2 linked regions of the Homo sapiens genome follow. The protein of the gene in region 1 purifies or fractionates together with the protein of each later gene. This does not show direct contact. Each region holds a gene or a part of one and is shown in the gene's direction. Other genes may lie near its edges. The genes, in order: SLC43A3 and ATP11C.

Region 1 (12,581 bases):
ACAATACAAAAATTAGCCAGGCATGGTGGCAGACACCTGTAGTCCCAGCTATTCGGAAGGCTGAGTCAGAAGAATTGCTTGAACCTGGGAGGCAGAGGTTGCAGTAAGCCAAGATTGTGCCACTGCACTCCAGCCTGGGCAACAGAGGGAGACTCTGTCTCAAAAAAAAAAAAAAAAAAATTAAAGTATGTCATACATACTGTTACAGGCACAGACCTTAAGCGTACAGCCCAGTGAAATTTTACACATCTATACAGCTATATAACTACCACCTATATCAAGACACATTCCAGGAACTCAGACTCCATCATACCCCTCCTCAGCAGAGGTAACAGACCCACACCTCTCCTGCTCCGGTGGTAATTAACCACTATTCTAACTTTTCTATCAATTAGTTTTGCCCATTCTTGAGCTTCACACAGATATACATTGTCAGGCATGATGACTCATGCCTGTAATCTCAGCACTTTGGGAGGCCGAGACGGGAGTATCACTTGAGCCCAGGAGTTGGAGACTACTCTGGACAACATAGTGAGACCCCCGACTCTACAAAAAAAATAAATTAGCTGGTCATGGTGGTGCGTGCCTGTAGTCTTAGCTATTTGAGACGCTGAGAGAGGAGAATCTCTTGAGCCTGGGAGGTTGAGGCTGAAGTGAGCCGTGATTGCACCACTGCACTGCAGCCTAGGTGACAGAGTGAGATTCTGCCTCAAAAAAGAAAAAATATGGCCGGGCGCGGTGGCTCAAGCCTGTAATCCCAGCACTTTGGGAGGCCAAGGCGGGCGGATCACGAGGTCAGGAGATGGAGACCATCCTGGCTAACACGGTGAAACCCTGTCTCTACTAAAAATACAAAAAAAGAAAGAAAAAAAAATTAGCCAGGCATGGTGGCGGGCTCTTGTAGTCCCAGTTACTTGGGAGGCTGAGGCAAGAGAATGGTGTGAACCCGGGAGGCAGAGCTTGCAGTGAGCCGAGATCGCACCATTGCACTCCAGCCTGGGCGACAGAGTAAGACTCTGTCTCAAAAAAAAAAAGGAAAAAGAAAAAATATATATACATTGTGTACTTTTTGGCATCTGGTTTATTTTGCTCAATATCACATCTGCGAAATTAATCTACACTGTGTGTATGAAAGGTTGGTTCTTTTTGTTGTGATGCAGTATTCCGTCGTGTGACTACGGGACAATTTGCTTATCCGTATTCCTATCGGTGGGCATTTGGGCTGTTACCAGGTTCTGGCTGTTATGAATAAAGTTGCTATGGATATTCTTGTACACTACTTCTGGTGAGCGTATGCACTCATTTCGCTTATGTAAATATCTTGGGTGGAATTACCTGATCATAAGGTAGGTGTGTTGGCTTTGTAATGTGCTGACTTGGTTATGTTGAATTCCCTTTTTTGTGTATTTCTGGTTAGAGCGGAACATGAGGGTGTCTCTTCAGGGAATCTGGAGGGTGGAAGGGAAGCAGGAGTCGGTTTCTGGCTCACACATGTTGTGACTGAACTGCTGGTACACCTGGTTGGCATGGAGCTGGCTTCTCCTTTGGCGTTGCCTACTGTTGGGGCAGGTGTGTATGTGGTTAGCTCCATGCAATGAACCCGGGCTTCTGCAAAATACATTAACAACGACAGAGACAACAAAAGCTGATGTGGATTTAAAGGCTTCAGTTCATCCTCATGGGGTTCCAGTTCATACTTATGGGGCTCAGTTTGCTCTGTCTTGCCCACTTTATATCCATCTTCCTTTCCCAGTTGCCTGACCTGTGGAATTCAACTGCAACATGACATGCAAAGATAATAGCCTTACAAGATTGCTTAACTACCTCCTACAATTGAGTAAGGCCAAATCCCTGTAGCAATCCACAGAGAGAGTGGTTCCACATCCCTGGTTGAACTTGGCTGATTCATTAAGTGTTTGTTTAACTTATTTCGAAACTGCCAGACACTTTTCCAAAGTGGTTCTTACTGCTTACTCCCTCCAGTTGTTCTGCGTCCAAGCTCCACCTTGATATTTTCATTCTTTTAAATTTTACCCATTCCGGTGGGTGGATATACCTGATTTTTAAACAAGCTCTCCTTCAGCTTGTTATGAAAGCGAATGGGTAAGAAACTAGTCTGTGGAAAGACTTTAGTGCTTAAAGGATGCCAGTTTGATTTTCAATGATATCTTCACCACTTACTGGCTGTATGATCTTAGTTGACTTTTTATCTCTCTAGGCTTCAGTTTTTTCATCTATGAAATGAATTATTAATCATCGCTAACAAGTATTGACTGCTTACCAGATGGCAGACACTGTTCTGAGCACTTTATGTGTATTCCCTCATTGAATCCTCTTGACAGATGTTGAGGTGGGTGCTATTATTATCCCCAATTCAGAGAAGGGGAAACTGACTTAGGTAATCTGCCCGAGGTTGCAGAGCTTATAAGTAACAGAGCCAGGATTCAAACCCAGACGGTCTGGCTTCCAAGTCCATGTTTTTACCATCTCTGTCCCTCCATTATAAGGAAGCATGAGGATACAGTGACAACACAGAAGTGAATTCTCTGCAAAGGGCAACACAACTAGTATGTATTGATTATTCCTCTTCAGTGGGTCTCAATGGGAAATTGCCTTTCAGTTCTATTAAATACGCAGAAATTAATCTAAGCAAACAAGGAAACAAAAAGCCTTCCACAATCATGATAAATGCAGCCAGAAAGGTAAGATCTTCATAGGATCCAGAAAAATCCAGCACTGTCCAAAGGAGAGGACACCCAGATGGCTCCCTGCCTTGGATATTCTGATCCTTGGCAGGATGGAGGCTTTATAGAGGTATGTCAAGCTTCACCTATGTGTCAATCCATCAACTCCCTTCCCTCTGACTTTGTACTCAACAAAGAACCTTCTGGTATTGATTTCCTTTCCCAAAAGCCTGTCCTTCCTGAAAGAGATTGTGCTGACCAGTCAGCCTTAGGATTCCCATCTGCTGGGTGGTTTCATTTCTCAGTGTTAATTAATAAATTGCATTTCAGGTTTATCAATCAGTCTCTTATGAGTTTGTTTAGTGTGGGTCATTTCCCCTATACTTAATCACAACAACTAAGCTCCCAGGGAGGGGTAGGGGAGGGAACACCATTGGAGTAGTATAACAGAGATGTCCAAAGAATGGTATGAAAAGATATACTATCAGGCTGAAGAGGACACAGAGAGGACTTCTGTATGGGGAAGGGAACATCAAGACAGGATTCCTGGAGGCAGATCACATTGGCACAGGAAAAGAGGTACTTCAGCATAATGGTGAAAACATGGGCTCTGGATACTGGGAAGTCTATCTCTTCCCATTTACTGGCTGAGTGACTTGGCCAAGTTACTTCATCTCTTGAGGCCTCAGTTTCTTCATCTTTAAAGTTGGCATAATGATAGTACCTCCGCCTCCTTATGGGGTGGCTGTGGGCATCAAATAATAATATATATTACATATAGCTCTTAGCCCAATGCCTGTCCCAAAAGCAGCACTCAGTAAATGACTGTCATTACTGTTGTCATTATTAATACCCAAAAGGGTGCTTTCATTGAGAATTCTAGAAAGGCACACATTTGAGGCCTGCTGCCTCCCTGATGCCCCTGAGGCAATTTTGTCTTAAAAGGAATAAGGATTGAGTCTGTGTTTGCTTTAAGACCTGGAGGGCAGAATGCTTTTTGCAGATAGGGCTCTTTCCTTGAGAGTGGTCACAGCCCATCTTGCGGTTTTGCAGCCCACGAGGAGAGCTGCATGTACAATCTATAAGAACCCATCAGCCCCGGGAACTTCCGTGGTTTCTGAGTCACTCTCAGGCCACTTCAGCTTCCAAGCAGAGGCTCCCAGGGCGGACTCACCATATAGGCCTTTTCTGCCCTCTCCCGTGCAGCATCTGGAGGAACATTGCAGCACCCCACGACAGATCCCTGCTTAATGTCAGCCTCTGTACAGAGTCCCAGCATTTCAGCAAGTCAGGGCTAAGAGAGGTTCAGCACTCGCTTCACAGAGGTAGGAATGGAGGCCCCAAGAGAGAAAGGTGCCCGGGGCAGCCCACCCAGGGGGCTCCAGAGCCAGGACTGGACCCTGGGTCTCCCACTTCCTTGTCCAGTGCTCTGTCTACAGTCCGCAGTGGAGCCTTCCCTAATTTCACCACAGACTTGCTTCTGGTCTAATGCCATGCCTTGAGTATCATCTGGGGTTCCCATCCTACATGTGCTCTCCTGGCAAGTGGAGGTTCCCCTCCACCCCAGCTTCTCCTTCTCCCTCCAGCTAATCCCTACCCACTTCCCCATCCTCCAGCACCATGGAAACTGTTCCAGTCTCTTCCGGCTTCCCTTTGCCTTTTTCCACAACAAAAGTCCAGTGTTCAATCGGCCCCAGCAGTTTCCTGCTCTTTTCATCTTTGGGGTGTTGGGCAAAGCTCTCAATGTGAAAAACCCCGTTGTTTTCACTCAGGAGTCGTCTCCTTCTCCTGGATCCATTTCCTCTTTTCATGATCATGCGTGTGGGTGGGTGTGGTGTCTGTGTGAGCAGGGCAGGGAGACACAGAATCACAGAGAGGCAGCACTACTCTCTTGTTTTAATCAAGGGTGCTGTCTGAAAGAATTACCCATCTTCATTCCTATTAGTAATAACTGGTACCCCCATCAACCCGATTCCAGAACTCATGCTCTGTGTAGCTCTTGGGAAGCCTCCCAGGAAGGCTGGGTAGGGCACAGATTAAGAGCATCAGCTGGCTGGGCATGGTGGCTCACGCCTGTAATCCTAGCACTTTGTGGGGCCAAGGCAGGCAGAACACTTGAGCCCAGGAGTTTGAGACCAGTCTGGCCAACATGGCGAAACCCCATCTCTACAAAAAATGCAAAAAAATTAGCTGGGCATGGTGGTGCACGCCTGTAATCCCAGCTACTCGGGAGGCTGAGGCAGGAGAATCACTTGAACCTGGGAAGTGGAGGCTGCAGTGAACTGAGATCACACCATTTCACTCCAGCCTTGGTGACAGAGTGAGATGCTGTCTCAAAAAAAAAAAAAAAAAAAAAAAAAAAAGCATTAGTTTCAGTCAGAGCATCAGGTTTCTATCCCAGTCCTGACACTGCTACCTGGTGATGTTGGGGGAGTTGCTTCGTCCCTCTAGGCCTCAGTTGGCCCAGATAATAGATGCTAATAACAACACCTATCGTGAGATTCAGTGACAGATTAAGCAAAAAGCGCTTCGAATCAGATACATAGTCAGTGCTCAGTGCCCAGCAGGTATTATTGATATTCCTTATTTTTCTTCTCAGGGGTAGGACGTGCCTCCATGTTGACACAGTGTTCCCCAGCCTAGTCCTTAGAGTTGCAGGTTTAGATATTGTCAGTGCACTGAGGCATTCCTTTCTAGCAAAGTCTATCGGGAAGTGCAGTTACCAGTAAACAGTTGCTTGATGAACATAGAAGTGGAGCTGGGGCTTGGGAGGGTGGGTAGCAGTAGCCTCATAAGCCCTGGTGTGGTGGGGCTTGGGGCTCTGCTTTCTCTTAGGCCTGGCCCAGTGCTTCCAGTATCTGGTCTGGTGGGGGAGCTCTGTTTTCTGCATGGTGAAAGGGAGGCTGATCCAGGCTGATCCTCTGCTGCCTCTAGCATCCACTGAAGCTGAGCTGGCTGCTCTGAGGGGCCAGAGTGGCCCCCACCCTCCAGTGCCTCTTTGGGTATCCTTTCAGATTCACCTCTGTTAAAGAGAAAGGTCTCCCCAGAGCAAGGAGGCCTCATATTTACTTGGCTATGTAGTAGTTCCCCACCCTCCTGAGAACTGCTTTGAACACACTAGGAGATACCCTGAAGAGCCAGCTCTAAGACTCCATCCCCTTCCTGTCTACTGTGGCTCATGAACAGACTTCCCACAGCTTACAGGACAATCCAAGCCCCTGCCTTAAGCCCAGACAGTCTTGGGGGGTTGTACTGAGTGCATTTGGGTGTCATCTAGAGATCAGTTCTCTAGGGTGGGACTTCTTAAGCAAGGTAAACTGAGCTCACCCATTACTTAGTGGTTTTCCCCCTAATTTATTTCTTTTTTAGGTTAGGAACACTTTGAAATTCTCCCTAAATGTGACTTTATTTCCTCTTTGTTTTCCAGTAAGTCAATAATATTTGTTAACAACAGTAGCTGCTATTTATTAATAGTGTACTAATTGGGCAGTTTTCATACATTATCTTTAATCCATACAGCTCGATTCCAATTTTATAGATGAGGAGACGGAAGCTCAGAGATACCAGTAATTGGCTCGATAGCAGTGTGCTTGTATTATTTTTGGCACTGCCTCAAGAGGATTAGAATTTTCTCTGCAGGTGAAATGATGTTTGCATTTACCTTTTGCTTTCTGACTTCCAAAACAGGCTGTAGAAACCCCTTTCAAGACCGTAGGTGGAAAACCAAACATTTTAATTTACATGAGCCCATTGTGAAAGGAAAGCTTATGTTTGTTTGTTTATGTGTTTGGCGTATCCGAAATCAAAGCCCTTTATGTGAATGGCTCAGAGTTTATCTACATATACAAATTTAGAAAGTGATGTCAGAGGGTAGGAGAGAATATCTGGACTCTGCCCAGAGAGTGGCAATTGCCCTCGCTGAGGTTGTTCAGAGGAAGTTTGAGGAGAGAGGTCTGTGGACAGGCAGGGACTGCATTGGAAGGTGGTGCTCTTGAGGACTAGAGGATACTAGCCATTGTTTGTGCCAGGGGAATGATGGAGTGCAGCTCACTTATACTGCCCTCTTTGGCAAACCCTCTTTCCCTAACCTAAACATATCCATCTTCCCACTCTGTCCATAAAAACATCCATAGGGTGGATCCTGGATATCCAGACTTGCTGATGATGGGAAGGAAAACCACCTCCAGCATTGGTACTTGGGCAGTAGGATGCAGGAGATCCAGTTCTATGCTCCCTCTTCCCCTCAAAGCAATGTCTCATGGCTGGCATCCCCAGACCCTGGACTGGTCCTTACCAGCCAGTTGACTGGACCTCAGAAGGGTTTTGAGCAGTTAAGTGAAGCCATCCAGTGGGAACCATGGAAATAAACTCTTGCAGGAGAATGGCGATGGCTTGGAAGCAGATGATGCCTCTGTGAGAGATGATGAGTGTCTGCATAGAGCAGTGGCCACGGATAGATAGGAGAGATATTAAGGGGTGAAATCAATAGGACATGATTGATTGATGTGGGCTGAATTCTTAATGCCCTCACTTAGATGGCGACGCTGGCCTCAAATCTTTCCACTTTCTTCACCACCCTGTGCTCTAGCTGGTTCCTAAATGTTATTGTTTTGTTGAGGTTCCGTGCCTTTCAATGTGCTGTGCTAGCATCTGCCTGGAAGACCATTCCCACACTCCAGAAATCTTGGGTTTCTTTGTCTGTCTCTCCCACAAGAGAATGAGCCCCTTGAGAGCAGGCACTGAATCTCTTCTCTACGAATCCCGGCACTTGGCACAGAGCCTGAGGTACCACATGTATTTGTTGAACCAATCAGTCAATTAAAAAAAAAAAGGTGTGAGATGATGAGGAAGGAGGCGAAGAGAAAAGGATGAAGACATCGGGTGCACCGTCAGACCTTATTATAATCACTTCTCTCTCTGATGTTACTCATTAATCCTCATTGGAGCCACGCAGGAGAGTGATCAGAATAGCATCTGCCTTTTCTAGCTGCTGGAATTCGAACCAAAGAACATGGGAATGGTTCAGAGGATATTCTAATTTCCTGTCCCATCAGTTCAGTAAGACTTGTGTTAGTGGAGGCCACGTCTTCTGCAGACATTGATGGGAGATGTGGAGTGGAGGCTCTAAGAGTCAAGAGAGGTAACAAGATAAGGTGGACAGAACCCTGGACGACCTGCCCCGTGTCCCGTGCTTCAGTCCTGGATGTACAGATAGCCCATGAGCTAGATCTTTCTGGCAGGCTCCTGCAGATTAACATTCTAAAATCTGTCTCTTTACTTTGACTTTTTTCTGTTTCTCCCTTGCTACTTCCACACTTACTGATCCCCCCAGGAGACTAAAATGTATGCCAGAGCAGAAGATAGGGCATGCATTAATTTCAGAGTCTTTGTGTCTTGCAGTAAAATAGAAAATCTTGCATCTTAAGCCCTGTTTGTCCTGGGATGCTATATTTTTGTGGATTTTCTCCCATAAATAATGTTATTTTAAGAAAAGACTTGTTTTCTCTAATGTCCAAATGTTTGTTAAGACGGGGTGATGAGAGCATACGTTTCAGAGTTGGGAAGGTACTGCAGCTTTGTAGAATGACCGTGGGCAAGTTCCTTTGAAATTCCTCCCCAGAGCTGCTTCTCTGGCTCTGTCTACATAACTGCAGACTAGAAAATCTACTACCCTACAATCTGCCTATAGCACCTGCGCCATGCAGGGACCTCATACACCCATCTTATACTTCTTTTATGACAATTCCTATAATTAAGGTACTATTGTCCTCGTCTTACAGGTGGGGCAGCCAAAGAGCTTGCCTCAGGTTGTATAACTAGTGAGTAGCTTGGGGTACAGGACCCCAGCCACCCTTCCTCCATTCAGTCAAGTCACTAGGGTGGTTGCAGACTTTTATCTTTTGTGCTTTGGTGGTGAGCTGGAAAATCCTCAGTTCTGGCTGTCCCCTATCGTAACCTCTATTTCTTCCTCTTAAAAAAAAGAGGAGTGGGCTTGGAATAGCTGGAGTTCCTGGGCCCTCAGGGGATCCAGGTAGCTGGGGTTGGGAGTCTGCAGACTGCATCTAATACGCAAGAAGCTCTCCCCAAACTGAGCTTTTGGCAAGGAAACGGCCACACAGGCCAAAGAAGACGTCAGCTCACGTGCTCTGGGCTGGAAGGATAGTAAGGCAGCTGCTTAGTAAGGCCTCACGCTGATCACAAGCTCCGATGAGCAATTATATATGTCTTTGATTAATAAAAAATGGGGCAATGAATGGTTAATCAATGCAGTCTGGCGGGAAGGCTCTTTCAGAACCTGGGGGGCGGGGGTGAGGCAGGGAGTCATCTAAGGGGTTTTTGGGAGTGAAAATATGGGGCAGTCCTCCAGGGGATGGTTTCTGAAAAGCCCTCAGTCCTGGTTCTTGGCTTCCTGATTCTGTGGTTGGGATTTTTTTGGCAGCTCTGGGAGTGTGAAACTGGGAGAGACGGTTAAGCTGGTGAGCAAATAGGAAAAATATGTTCCCTGCCAACCCAGCGGTCAAGGCAAAATGCACAAATAGAGTGTGTGTGTCCCTATGCCCTCATGTGCTGTCTGTGTGTCCTCTGGGTGCTGGGTGTGACATTTTCCCTAGGTGGGCCTGAGCGAGTAACAGCATTCAACTAACTTGGTTAGGGGAGGCAGAGGCAAGGGGGCTGGGAGGCTGAAAGGCAGCGAGGAGGGAGGGAAAGACACCGCTGGGGTTCTAGGGGGTTCTAGAGGGAGAAGTTTCAAGAGGGAGAGGTAAAAAGGGCGCGGGAGGCTGTGAGCAAGGGAAAAGAAGAAGGAAGTGATGGAGAGTGGGAGGTCTGCCCCAGCCCCTTCCGGGCGGGCAGGAGGGGGCGGAGGCGAGCAGGGGACTGGGAGGGGCTGCGAGAGGCGCGAATGCGAACCTGGCCCGTGCGGAAAGGGCGCGGAGAGCCCCGGCGCGGAGCAGGCGGGTAGGGCGAAGGGTCCCCTTTCGGGCGCCATGGGGCGCCGAGCGCGGCCTGGCCCCTCGGGCTCCTCTGCGGGGAGGGCAGGCCGCAGGCTGGAGCGGGGTGCGGAGGCTGGCGGGGAGCGGCCCCCGGAGGCTTTCCTGGTAGAAGTTGATGCGAGGAAGGGCGGCGGGGACCAGGTTTGCGAGTCCTAGGCGAGGGTCATGGGAGTTGGGGGTATTTCTGGCAGTAGAATGGCCTGCGTCGTGACTAAACTAGCCCTGTGACCTTGGGCAAGTTCCTGAAATCCATGGGAGCTTTTGTTTCATTGTCAGTAAACTGAAGATAACACCAACTTGGCAGCGGGAGTTTGTGTCTTCTGTATGAAATCTCCCTGCCTCTGCACCTGGTTGAGTTGCTGTCATTATTTTAGGGGACGGTATTCAGAATTCGAGCGCAGGAGCTCCGCTTCTCCACCTGCTCCCGGGGAGCTATTGGGTAAGTCGTTTATCTCACCTGTGACTCCAGGTGGCCATCAAGACCTGCCTCTCTACTTGCCACGTGGTTACTCAAATGCAGTGCCTAAGATGATGTATTGGAGTATTTATTCCCCACATTTGCTGCCAGCGGCCATGATCATCCTGCCTCTTAATGCACCTCACAAATAACTCTAGTCTACCTTTCCCTTTCCCGCAGGCCTCCTCTTCCAGCAGCCTCTATCTTTATTCTACAGGATCCAGAGAATCACCCGCTGATGGTTTTTGCCCAGGCCTGAAACAACCAGAGAGCTACGGGAAAGGAAGGGCTTGGCTTGCCAGAGGAATTTTCCAAGTGCTCAAACGCCAGGCTTACGGCGCCTGTGATCCGTCCAGGAGGACAAAGTGGGATTTGAAGATCCACTCCACTTCTGCTCATGGCGGGCCAGGGCCTGCCCCTGCACGTGGCCACACTGCTGACTGGGCTGCTGGAATGCCTGGGCTTTGCTGGCGTCCTCTTTGGCTGGCCTTCACTAGTGTTTGTCTTCAAGAATGAAGATTACTTTAAGGATCTGTGTGGACCAGATGCTGGGCCGATTGGCAATGCCACAGGGCAGGCTGGTAAGGGCAGGGATGACTTTTCTAAGGAAGTTAAGTCTGGCTCCCACGTGGTGGCAAGGAGCAGGAAGGACTCTGCCCCCTGCCCACCCCTCTTTCTATGATGAGAGGAAGGGTCAGCAGCTCTCACCCCACTTGATCTGGGAAGTGCCTGGGAGGGAGGCACCAGCTCCTGAGGGGTAATTAGGGGCAGCCACATTTCAACTCAGCTTAAGGGACAAGTTTGCGACCGACAAGCTGTCTGAGGTGGAGGGGAGCCCAGCCTGTGTGCTCATTTGGCAGGAAGGCTGGGATGCATGGGAGACCTTTTTTCTACTCCAGACTGCAAAGCCCAGGATGAGAGGTTCTCACTCATCTTCACCCTGGGGTCCTTCATGAACAACTTCATGACATTCCCCACTGGCTACATCTTTGACCGGTTCAAGACCACCGTGGCACGCCTCATAGCCATGTAAGTCCCAAAGGCCAGCCCAGGCAAAGGTGGGTAAGAGGAATCCTTCAGGCAGCAGCCTAGCTTGGAGTGAAATCCAGAGTCAGACAGCCCGGCCACCCTGCCAGGCACCACACCTGCAGCTCGCTCCCAGCAGCTGTTAGGAACAGCCCCAGGCAGCGGGACTCTCTCTAGACTTGCCCACTTCACCACAGCCCCACTTCCATTTCCTTACCTCGTTCCCTGCTCTGCATAAATGTGGCTTCCCTATCACGTGCTGAATTGAGCCGGAGGCCAGGGTGACTTCCTGTAAGGGCTGGCTTGGAGCCAGGGTTACAAAATTAGCAAAACCTAAAATTGCTCTTCTCTTCCTTCACCCCAAGGATCCTTGTCCTCATCCCCTGCACAGCCTCACATCCAGGTTGCCCAGGCTTCATCCTCATCCTCCTCACCGCCCCCCCTCCCCGCCCCAACAGCCAATCACTCCCTAGGGGCTTAGCTAATAGGAAGTTTCTTTGGTATTGCCACTGGTGGAATTTCAGGTCCCTTCTGACTGGAGGGGAGACTGGGGGGGTTTCCTGTGCAGATGAGTCAGAAGGTTCGGGACGTGATCTCACACACAGTGTGTTGCTGCATCCTAATCTCGTGCTCTGTGGCCAGGCTCAGTGGTAATCAGCGGCCTGCTGGGGGCTGATACAGCTCAGAGCAGGTGCTCCCAGGGAGGCACATGTGAGATTGGCTGTCAGAGAGAGAGACGGGAGGGCTGGCTGGGCCTGCCTTTCCGGAAACAGCCAGAGTAAAGCCAGTCCCTTACAATTTAAGCCTTTGGATGCAGAATGACTGTACCTCAGTCCTTCTTGGTCCTTGGCTCCCTGCTACCTCCCCTTTCCTCCCCTTCCTTTGTCCCCTCCCTCTTCTCCAGCCTTAGGATATTGCTTTTTTTTTTTTACTCCATGCCTTACAAGACCCCCAAATGCTAAGGGAGCCTGATAACCTTGGGACTGTAGTCCTGAAATCATAGCACTCTGAGCTAGATCAGTCCGATCATTTCTTTTTATAGAAAAGGCTCCTGAGGCCCAGAGAAGGACAGCGCCTTGCCCAAGGTCACAGAGTGAGGAGGAGTTAGAACTCAAGGCCTTGATTTGCAGACCAGGCACTAACCCCTTTCTCCAAGGGGTTGGGCTGTTGGGGCTTCCAGGTGGGAGGACCTTCGCTTTGCCCATTCTGTCCTGGCTAAGTCCCAAGCCAATCACATCGTCAGCTGAGCTCATTGTCCAAGACTTTCCATGCTAGCCTTGGGCCTCAGAATGAGCAAAATGCACTGTCCATGAGGTCAGGACCACATCTCAATCTCATCGCGGCTTCTTGCGCCTGGTTTTGAGCCTGGGGCTCAGAGGCATCAGTGCCCGTTGCATCCCAGGCTGAGGGTGCGGTCAAGTC
Region 2 (11,738 bases), on another chromosome or scaffold:
TAGGAAGAATTCTAGTGTCTGTGCTATGGCTTGGCATGCTGATATGCTAGAACAACCAGGAAAATTTCCATAATCATTTTCATTCATGCAATCATTCATTCATTTATTCCTACCCTTGTTGAACCAATAAACATTTGTTGAACCACCTACTGATGAACATCTCTCTTTACATCCAATGTCTGAAAGGCTAGATGGTTTTTCAGACTCTGGGATTTCAGGAGTCGCAAATGAGGCAAAATGTTGTGGGCACTCAGCAGTGCTGCCTCTTTTTTTTTTTTCTTATGAGAAAATGCAAGAGCAAAGTAGTGCAATATGAATGCATAGAGGCCTACTGCAACATGGCAGCCATGGCTATTCTGATAAATCACATCTGTTTATATAAGGCCCTATTTGGCTATATCAAAGAGGTGGAGGCCAACTTCTAAGATAAGGGAGAAAGAGTATGTTATTTTCCCCCAAATATTTTAGTCTTTATGCTCAGTGACCAACAGTCTGACACTCTGTGTGATTTCCTACTTTGTTCTGTATTCCTTGCTAAGACATTGGCCTCATTTTAAAGAGAGGCAAAAGATACTGGGTCTGCCCCATATCCTGATAGATCCCCCGATGTGGTCAAATGTGTGTCTCTACCTAGAGTAGAAGAATCCCTGACTTCAACCAATAAGTATCGTGGACACTTTATGTACACAGCCAGAAATGTGGCAGGTCAGCTGCCAGTGCTGTTCTTATGTGGGTCTTGGCAGCTGCTTTGAGAAGGGGACTTAGCAGTGTGTAGTGAAAATGTCTCTATGGCATTTGAGAAAGAAGCTAAGCTATTTATATTTAACAATTATAAGAGCAACCTTATGCTGAATTCTGTTCAATTCAGCATACCTTGCCTGAGGGCCCACTATGAGTTAGCTACTGTACTAGGTGTTGGTAATTCAGGGATGAATCAGATGTGGCCCTAGCTCACAAGCAGCTCTCACTCTGGTTATAAGGAGCATTCATATGGAATACTTCTGTAAGCAGGTATTAAACAGAATAGCAGAATCAGTGATGTGGCTTGTTTTAACACAATTGAGCTATTTCAAGTCACTACCTCCTGAAACCTCCAGTAAAATCGCTAGTATGGCAGCCTCCACTGCAACTGAGTTCTGTCATAATGCTAGTATTAGAAAGAATTCCAGTATCTTCAAATGTAGGTTCTCTCAGTTGTTTAACTCAAGGGTTGTAGTTAAGCCATGTATCCATCAGCTGTATTTTTAGCAATGAGGTTAATTTTTTTCCCCAAAGTTCCGTTATTAAGGATCCTAGAGCTTTTCTTTAGCTTTATGAAGTGACAAAGCTGCATAGCAATGCTGTTGAGGGTATATGATGAAACTACCATTGAGCACTGAACAGTGAAACAGCAGGATAACACCTCAAGGAAAGGTCAAGTATAGGATTTTTGTATTTCAAAAAGTTGTGTCCCCCCTAAGCACAGTCATTGGCTGTCTGTAAATCAATGAAATATATCTGGAGTTTCTGGCCAAGTAGCAAATACCATTTCACATTTCCAATGGAGAAATTTCCACATATCCTGTGTGAAGTTTTCTCATGTAAGTCACCACAATCAAAAAGGAGGCTTAACTTCGCTGAAGCTTGACAAAGGAAGACTATAATTTAATGGGAATGCACCCAGCAACATGGCCGTGCTTAGCATGGGATGTCAGCACAAACAGGAAGAAATATTCCATTATGTAGAGAACTCTTTCAGAGTGGTAGACAGGGAAGGGAAGAATGTCAACTGTCTGAGCCAAAGTCCCAGAGAAAGCATTTTGGAAATTTTGGAGAATATAGTTAATCATTATAATAATGATGATTACTATTATGATTCTTACAGTGTCATATACAACCATGGGTTCACAGGGCAATAGCCCTGTTAGCTGGATTAGACAAAAATAAAGTTTAATCCTAATGTCGTGGCTGTTGAGATGGGCCTTTATCCATTGGCCTCTTTGACATACTGCTAATTGAGCTGGTGTCAAAGCTCTCTAGATGACTGCAAAGGAATGTGGAAATTTCATTCTGTTTTAGCTCATTATCTCCTGTTTACCCCACCCCACTGCCGGTTGCTAGCTATATCAATTTTTTTATTGCTTTAGTTACTCTTTCCATGCTTTCTCCTGCTTTCTGTACTTTCATTTCCTTTATAAAGTAGTTTTAACACCTAATCTATTAACTCCTAATATTTCTGCTTCATAGAAATACTTTTATCTCCGATGGTTGGATACAAGTGTTTGAGCACACCAAAACGTGCTTACAGTTGCAGTCTTGAATAGATAGGTTTGTGCATTAAACACGGGGGTGGGGAACTTGGTATCATGCTGATCTTGTCGCAGGGTTTTTGCCCATAAAATAGAAGATAGAAACAATTAAAATCTTTTTCTCAGAATCTAAATATTCTCTAGCTTTATCAATTGGTAATTTGCATTCTATCAATATGTCTATCAACTTTCTTCATTCCACCAACTTTCTTCATTTAAGGTAAAAACAAGAAAAAATGTAGTTGTCAAAACATGAATAAATTATTTACCTTTGAAAGTTTAATTGTTTATTAGAATCTTCTGGAAACAAATGTTACTTTAGCTGGTTTCTTTTTCTAAGCCCATTTTAGGTCACTAAGTAGACAATATGGGTAATCTTTATTAGCAGAGTTGTTCAAGTCATCCACATTGTTGACCACTCATCTTCTGTTTTGCTTGGGCAATGCCAAAACTGAGTCTGTAAATTACCTTATAATTTCAGGCACAGAATCAGAAGGAAAAAAATAACCTTAGGTTTGCCAGTTAAACTTTATCCATTTTCACTTTTCTGGGTGTTTTAAGGGGAAAAAAAATAATACCTTACCCAGGTAAAATTTAGCCTATCTTTCTAAAGAGGACTCTGTAGGAAAAACAGGGAAACCAATCAAATTAGGTTGTAAGAAAGGAAGTTAAGCATTGGTCAGAGGCAAATGGGACTGAAATGTGGTATCACCAAATGTTTTCCCATTGTTATTTTTGATTAAGTTTTTATCCTGCAACTGCTTAAGAGCAGTCAGTCCCTTCATAGTGTATCTGTACAGTTGCATAGGGGAGATAATTACTTCAAGATAGATTGGTGATTGGCAATGGACCCTGGACATAACTCTTTGACCAATGGATTTTGAACAAATGTAGGATAGTGAATTAATGATTAGAGATAAGTCTTATTTTAACGAGAAGCATATTTTAAAGCTATTTTATTTAAAATAGTCAATTTTCCCATTAACAAAATAATTTCAAATTGATATGTAGAGAAATAGTAGTTGGCACGTAATAATAGACTATTCCTATCTCTGACTCTGCTTTTACTTCAGAAAATAATGTCTTCAAAACTAACATATCATTTCGGCTTCGAATTCTCAAGTTTTCTTTTTAAATGTCTTACATTTGAGAGATTATTTACTTTTTTTTTTTTTTTGGTTTCTGCATTTCTCTTTTTTCTACTGCAATTTTCCACCTTTTGTGCAATTGTGAACAAGGTAACGAAACGCCTCCCTTCCTCAGGAACATCTGCTATCTTCATGCTTTCTCAAACTTCCAGCAATCACAGTTTCTCTTGGAGTGAATAAGGTGATTTCCTTTCTTAATGTACCAACTTGCTTGCATTCTCATTTGCCTGACACCATTTTCTAATTCTTTATGAAAAATTACTTCTCATGACTCATTTTATATCTTCTATTGATGCTTAGAGTATTTTGTCATTTTCTTTTAATCATGTGTTCACCTTCCAAATTGTCACACTGGAGAGGAAGTAATTTTTAAAAGCTTGGACTACGGGTCTGTAGTCTTCATTGATCCACGGTATGCAGTGGCCATGGCGTGTTAGAGCTAGTCTGTTCACCAGGACAGGAATGTTTTGCACAAATTTCTCTTTGTTTGATAATACGGCACCGGCACAACTCTCAGAGGTGTTCACCAAAAGGATGGTAAGGTTTACTAATCAAACCATATTGACTCATCTTACCATATTACTTACCAGTGCCATTCCAAAAACCCAAGTTTACTACATACTACTGTTGTCTGTTTACTTCTACCACAAAAACAATTCGAGTTGGAGACTTTCTTAGGCCTTTGAATGTATTCATTTGAATGTTATACATTTACTATATAGTGTAATCATTTGTACTTTTGGCCAGAGGAGTAGTCTATAGGAAATGATTTTTTTCTTTTACCTTTTTTTAAATATATAATCACCAGGTAGGTTAACCAATTTTCAAATGCTTTAAGTATCTTTGCCTCACTATTACAGAGAAATCTGAGCTGTAGAAGGGCATCTGACTCATTATCCGCCAGACCTTCAGTCAGACCTCTTCTTTTACGAACATTCTCAGACGAATCTAATGTATTGTAACAGGTACCTAGTGTTAAACAAATGGGCTGGCTTTAAAAAATCGGATTAACAGCATTATAAAGAAAAAATGAAAATATCACTCTCTAAATTTTCTCTGCTGTTGGTGTGGTGAACTTTACAATATTCTTTGCAAAAATATAAAGATGCATTACTTGGAATATGGGGAAATATGCATTTAAAATATTAAACATTAAAATATGATAAGCCCCCCAAATAAAATGTTAAACATTTTTCAGAGCCAAATGTTGATACAGCATATTTAATTTGTAAGGGGCAAGTTGTCATGGCAAGGCCACCATGTGAAAATGTTTGTTAATATTGATCAGGAAATATAACTTTGATTTATAAAGATCATTTGGAAAACTAAAAGTAAATATTCCAAAATTGCATCTGTATAATATCAAGCCAATTTAGCATTGCATGTTCTCTTGGGAATTATGTGAAAATAACTAAATGTGTTTGTACCTTCATGTGCTGTGTCTGTGTGTTTGCAGGTACTGTATACACTTATGTCCTTGTAAATGTCTGATCTCCAAATATATATCAATGAACCAGTCTAATCATAACTTTTTTAATGTCAAGTTTTATTCAAGCTAAATGTTTCAACTTTCAGAGGTAAAATATTTCATAGCCATTCAGGGGGATGCTTGCCTAATGATATAAAATGCTTTATAATTAATGTTTCCAAAAATGATTAAATTCACTTTATAATGTTTCATTTACCCCCAAAAATATTTGGGAGGAATTGATACGCCGTGGGAGGGCCCCTTGAACTCAGAATGACTCCTTTATGTATAGTCTGTATTTCCTTCAGTGGGGGCCTTTAACAACTCAGACCTCTGGAGGTCTTTTATCCATCCATAGGAATTTAGAGTAATTAATGAACAAGGCTTCCAAGCTTGTCAGCTTGGAAACAACTCTACACAGCTTAAAGCAGGGCCATCTTTCATGCACACATAAAAATTAATGATCATCATGAATACAATTGTGGGTTAGTTCACTTTGAAGCTAATAATTGCGAGTCCACCTTATAGGCCCATTTTTTTCAACAGCTGTCAACTCTGCCACCCTCTAGCAAAGAATACAAGTTAAATTAATGGATTGACTCCATTGGTTCTTCTGTCTTCCTGGAGTTCATCGCAGTCTACATCTGCACTGTTATTTTAGAAGCAGACTCATTTTGCCACAGTTAGCATCTTTTTACCCATTTTTGAACAACTTACCTGAGTATGTTTTCCCTTAGTAATGAATCTGCTTCACAAGTAACCTTCAAGGTCTTTGACCCCTTTGTCCCAGATTGCCTCGTTCTAAGCTGTGTGATGCATTTTAGCTATATTGTTTCTGGCTAATTTTGTATCCCCCTGGATTGCTCTCTTTAGCTTGGTCTGTGGTTTGGGGGACTGGGCTGGATAGAAGACACTGCTGTTGCTTTTGGCCTCTCCAGGGCCTTATCTCCTACAATGTCTAACATAGAACTGAGGAAGTATTTTTTAAAAACAATTGTCTTATTTTTAATGTAGTTATTTCTTCCAGGAATAGATTTTCATGTGGCATTATTTCTCCTCCAAAGACAATAATTAGCAGCTAGTTTAGGCATCTAGTTTGTTCCTTGGTTGGTAAGGAAACTACCTAACTCCTCAATGTGAGTTACATTCTCAGTATGAATGGCAACCTTATTTTGGTTAGAGTCACCATGACCCTGCAGAGCTACCTGAAAACCTACTAGTGGTTCTGGAGAATGTGGAACATAAATAGAAATGGAAGGTATTCTAATGAGCTTCTAGTCCAGCCATGGCAAAGGAGGTGTCCCAGAATGGGAAGAAAATAGCATACTACTTAAGACCTTCCACTACTCAGGTTCAAAAAGATTGAGTTTTAGAGTGGAGAATCAGGCTCCCTGTTTTGACATATGACTTCCATTTCTTAACATACTTGACTTACACTTAATGATCAGTTTGTCTGTCATGCACCATCCTGATCATAGCATTTGATGATGTTTAGAGGACAGAGAAGAATCTACAGATTTGATAGGGAAATATCCGTGGTTTCTCTTCCAAAAAGATGAAGCATAAGAAAAAACAGAAGAATCAATCGACTCATAGATACATGATCTACCAAAAGGAAAATTAACTTCCATATTGTAGGGGGGAAATATGCTTCTTTCAGTAAAAAGGAAGAATATTTTCACAATAATCTTCCAAAGCTGAATATATCTTCAGACTTCCTCTGTCAAAATTAACACATCAAGAAAAACAGCAATCTAATCATTCATCAAACATTTCCTGAGTATCTGCTGTGTGCCAGACACTATTACTAGCTGCTGGAGATAGAAGGTAAATAAAATGTTCCTGTTTTCAAGGACCTCCCAGCCTAGAGGAGAAGGGATCACAGCAAGCTAAACCTCTGCTATGGTAAATAATCCCAGAGGTAGAAAGTATTAGGAGAACCCTGGAACAATCCAAAAGCAAAAAGCAAGCCTGAATCTATTCAGCTGACAAATGAAGAAAGGATTAAAATCTGGTTATAGTGTCACTCTTTTTTTCCCCTGCATGTGAATAAAACTTGGCACTTTGTTAAGACAGTTGCTTTACTCTCATAACAAAATTTACTACTTATTTCTGAAAATGCTTAACAGATGGTTTCACATTATTAAAATAAGCCTTTTAAATCTGTATATTTTACATTTTTCAGAATCCGAATCTTGAACTGCCTATGTTATTGTCCTACAAGCATACTGACAGTGGTTACAGCTAAAAAAGAAAGCATGAAGAAACAACTACAAAAAGTTATCATCTCAGGATACTTGATACGCAACACACTAAACCACTCTCATGTCTAGAGTTCACAATAAATGTTCATTAAAATACCAAATGATTCTCTTAAGCATTTACCATTATTGTAAGTAGCCTTTATGGCCAAAGCTGTAAGTTAAGAATTATATGAAAGTTGAAAGCAAGAATACTTAGAATTCTGGCTTTAGTTAGAGTAATATAACTCAAATGGGTGCTCTTTTAACCCATGAACTTTGTGAATGGATTTAAATACAATAGTATGAAGTAGAAGTTATGCAATGAGAATGAATAGATTTTGCTAATACTACTTTTTTTGCCTGGCAGAAGAAATAGACTATTTGGATCACATTTCTCATTCCTCCTAAATGATCATCTTAATTTTTTTTCCCAAGTACATAAGGAATACTTGAAAATACAGAATAACTAAATAGTATCAATGCATCAGACAGAATAGTTAATCCCTTCTGTTTACCCATGTGCTACTAATGTCTTGGTAGAATATTCTTGCCAAAAAAATACCTTGAACGCTTATGTGGAAAGTGTTAACTTACGGGTATTTTTGTGGGAATAGAAAAAAATTGTTTATTTTTTATTCTTCTGAATTAAACCCCACTTATGGGTGTAAGCCTACTAGACTTGAAAATAAAGTATAAAACATTTCCAATCACTTAGTAGCCCCTCAAAGTAGTTAGAAAATAAACAGATTTTTCCAGTGTTGATTTTACTGGGATCTGCAGTAAGGTGGTTTAAACCATAGTTATATAAAAATAAAGGTCATTCTGAATATCAGCCTTTTATAATTTTATGTGAAGAGGAAGAAATATAGCTTATTTTAAACTTTTGACGGTTTTTATTTGAAAGAGATTGCATTTATGCATATATGCAGTGCTTTTTCTTAAACTTGGCCAATTTGGAAAGGGGGAAGGAGCCACCCCAAAACGGTGGTTCAGCTTGTAGAGCCATGACTCTGTGAAGATGAATGTTGTCTCTTAACTTGGACAGGGAAATGGTCTAACTCTAAACCATGTAACTGACCTTAGTAAAGTCCTTGACTAACTGAACTAGAAGGAAGGTTTAGCCTTCTAATTAGTTCACTTGAAACATAAATGTGAAATGTCTTCATTCAATGTTAAACACATACTTTTTTGGATATAAATGACCATATTTATTTGACTGCTAGTTTTTTTGTTTTTTTTTTGTCTTTCTGGCATGCCTGTACTATTATTAATGTTTATATTGTACCTTGATTTGGAAAAGTATTGGAGTTAATCTGTATTATATTTATATAGTCCATATGGCACATTTGATTCTTCCACATATATTTTGTGTTAATGTTTAGGTATGATTTTTTTCTAAATTCTAGAAAAGAACATAATTTCAGTTATCAGAAGCCATTCCATCATTATAGACCCTTTTTCATTATTTCATTTGCTCTCATATATCAGTATTATTTTTGAGCATTTTGTTACATGTCATTCACAACTTACCTAAGTGTGCTGTGTTCTGGTAGCCCGTATTTGAGGTAAGCTGCTGAAAACAAAAGTCTCTATATTCTTTGCCTATTCCAAAGAGCTAAAAAAGTCTAACCCAGGAAAGCTTTTGATATTTTGTGTTTGTTTTCTTGTTCTTATGGTTGTTGTTGCTGTATTATGATTGCTGTTTTACATAAAATCTATGGGAACTGTGAATACAGACAAGAGAGCCACAGTAGAGAGGCTTGTTTAATGCAGTACCATTGGAGAGTTAACAGAATAATCTAGTAGAAAAATAACTGGTTGCATGTAAAATTCCTTCCAGCCAGAAAGAAAGAAAGACAAGGAGTAAGGGGGATTTAGAGTTATGTCTCAGCTACACATTACATTGTGATACTGCAGCTCAAATTCAGAATGGCAATGATACATGATATCATGGCCTAGATCCTTGAGAGGGACCTGGCTTTCCTTTTTAAAAGATATTTTACTGAAGAGCTAAAAACTGGCCAGTGTGGGGTTAGCAGATCGAATAACTTGAAATAGACCATGCAGTATTCCTAGCACTCAATGTAATCACCCTATTTGTGACAGAGAAAGGGAAAAAAATATAATAAGATCATCTACCTATAATTTGAATAATTTTGAGCTATCAAAATGTCTTTGTAATTTTCACAACCGCTGTCCATTGTTTGAGGATGTTACCTACTAAACTGAAAACATTCATTCCATATCTACTTACACATACACCAGCAACAGTATAAATGTAAGCCTAACTTTGCAAAATTCGTAATAATTTAGTGATGGAATTTTTTAATAACATGCAGTATATAAATGTGCAGATTTTATGCGTGTTGACAAAATCATTTTTCAGCTTGCAAAATGGGACTGCAATATTACATTTTTCACTTAAGCAGTTTTTTACATCTACGTTGTTGCTTTCTAAAATGAATGTGAATGCCATCTTTTATGACTGCAACTTGCCTTTTCCATTACAGAAATTTTTGTTTGATGTAATCAATAAACTTTGGTATGATATGATTGATATATCAGCCTCTTTTTTTTGGGAAAGGTCTCAGTTTGACATTAAAATAATATGGAAGCAATTTGTTGATGGGAACTAAGTTTCTAATTTCTTCTTGACCTGCACAATTGACAGAAGTTTGACCATTTCTACATGAGTTCAACTGGTATTTTATGGCAATACCTAATTTGGGGAGGGTAAGATATTTGTAGGAGTTTTTAATAACACTGTACCTTGTTACTGCATAGATAAAAGTCCAGCCAAATCAGTAAATACATATTGAAAGTCTACTTTGTGCTTGGCAGTGTGCTTGATGCCAGCCATGCATTGAAGGTAGCATATGTTTGGTCTTTGTGGTCTGTGTCTTCAACCCATTGAACTCATTTGATTCTTAAGCAGTCAAACATGAAGGGATTTTACAGTAGCTTGAAACTTGGTCCAAAGGTGTGTGTGTGTGTGCACACCACTTCCCCCACCTCTTCTTACATTGCTCAGCCTGCACCCAAGACCTTGTGAAAGTCCCTTTTCTTGAAAAACCTCACTGTCCTTGACTGCCAAGAAACCAGAGTTGCTCTACGGAAACTGGTTTCATTGCATTTCTACATTTCAGTCTCTATGTTTTGGTAGTCTTTTAATCCTGTTGGTCTTTGATCTATATTTAGTGTGTATTTTCTTCTTTTTCATTAAGTGGAAAATATGCGAAAACCTGAATTAAAGTATCAGCTTTGCCACATTTCTCTCTGAATCCTTTTTCTTTCTCACCTGTAAGATGGTGTGTGGCAGGGCAAATAAGGTAAAGAATGAAAATTGCTTTGTAAAATGTCATTTGCTATTCATATGTAGGCATTGTTACTTTTATGTTAAGGGTTTGTTATTGCTTAATTTTTTAATGAACAGTTGTCATTTACCACATTTTCATAGATGTCTTACGTTATTTTGGCTTATTGGAATCAGTCAGTTCAAGCTTCCTTCCCTTCCCCCATCCAGCCTTATGGGGCGCTCCCTCTTCGCCTCACTGCTTAGTCTGCCCACAGTTGGCCAATACAGTGAGTATTGTGAGGGTCCGAGTGATCTGGCCCCTTCAACAAGAAGCACAGGCAGAGGTTAAGGGCTGAGGTTATCACTATGGTTATTCAGTGAATGTGTCCATGGGCAAAGTGCTGGATGCATACTAATGAAGTCTGAAGGCCTGTGTTCTGAGAATAGTTATCAGGGGAAAAAAGTGGGCTTAATTATTTTGCAACTTTTAAAAAATTAATTTGACACAATTTTACCAACAACTGATGGGCGAGGAAACATGGGCTCAGTTCCTATTGCGTAGACCTATTGTGCTAAAGAAATGTTGCAGCGTGGATCAAGCAAGTCCTCATCTCATGGGCTTTGGGAGTAAGTGCTGAGGCCTGTGGCTGAGAGAAACAGTGCACTCATGGTGGGCCAGAATTCCTGCTGGCAGTGAGTCTTTGGCCTTGGCTCTTTGGGCAGGATTGAGCAAAAAGGATGTACATAACTAAAATACCTGCTGCTACTTTGGTCTCTTCAGCAGTTGCCAAAACCCAATTCCTCACATTAGCTAACACTTACACAGCACTTAATATGTGCCAGGAACTGTTCTAACCACTTTACACGTATTCATTCCTTTAGTAATTCCAGTAACCCTAGGAGATAGGTACTGATGTTTCTTCATCTGACAGATGAGGATACTGAGTCCCAAAAATACTCAAGGTTACACTGTCTGGTGGAGCCAGAGTTTGAATCCAGGTATTCCGATTAGAGTCTGTGAACTTAACTAGGACACTGTGTTTCTATTTTTATATCACCCCTGATGGCATGAATAAACAAATCATCAAAATGTTAGTATTAAACTTGAGAAAACAGACAAACCAAAATTGAAGGATATTCTGCACAATAACTGGCTTCAAAATTACAAAGATCATGAAAGAGCAAGACTGAGTAACTCTCCCAGATAAACAAAACAACTAAAACTTTATTGTGAAAACTAACCGTGGCATATGATCTTGGACCAGAAATTGAACATTAGTGGGATAATTAGTGAAG

What was found.
Region 2: the proteins of SLC43A3 (region 1) and ATP11C purify together in Homo sapiens (affinity purification with mass spectrometry; 2 studies listed by BioGRID and IntAct, with this or other methods). This does not show direct contact.

The regions. Positions count from the first base shown.
Region 1 is NC_000011.10:57,424,122-57,436,702, reverse strand, and holds the start of SLC43A3 (equilibrative nucleobase transporter 1), read left to right. Parts: upstream 1-9,581; 5' UTR 9,582-9,641; exon of another isoform or gene 9,642-9,817; intron 9,818-10,050; 5' UTR 10,051-10,115; intron 10,116-10,313; exon of another isoform or gene 10,314-10,350; 5' UTR 10,351-10,530; coding exon 10,531-10,714; intron 10,715-10,993; coding exon of another isoform or gene 10,994-11,032; coding exon 11,033-11,162; intron 11,163-12,581. UniProt on the Homo sapiens protein: Sodium-independent purine-selective nucleobase transporter which mediates the equilibrative transport of extracellular purine nucleobases such as adenine, guanine and hypoxanthine.
Region 2 is NC_000023.11:139,724,314-139,736,051, reverse strand, and holds the end of ATP11C (phospholipid-transporting ATPase IG), read left to right. Parts: intron 1-3,526; coding exon of another isoform or gene 3,527-3,616; exon of another isoform or gene 3,617-3,617; intron 3,618-4,296; coding exon 4,297-4,398; 3' UTR 4,399-4,401; intron 4,402-7,089; coding exon of another isoform or gene 7,090-7,152; 3' UTR 7,153-9,704; downstream 9,705-11,738. UniProt on the Homo sapiens protein: Catalytic component of a P4-ATPase flippase complex which catalyzes the hydrolysis of ATP coupled to the transport of aminophospholipids, phosphatidylserines (PS) and phosphatidylethanolamines (PE), from the outer to the inner leaflet of the plasma membrane.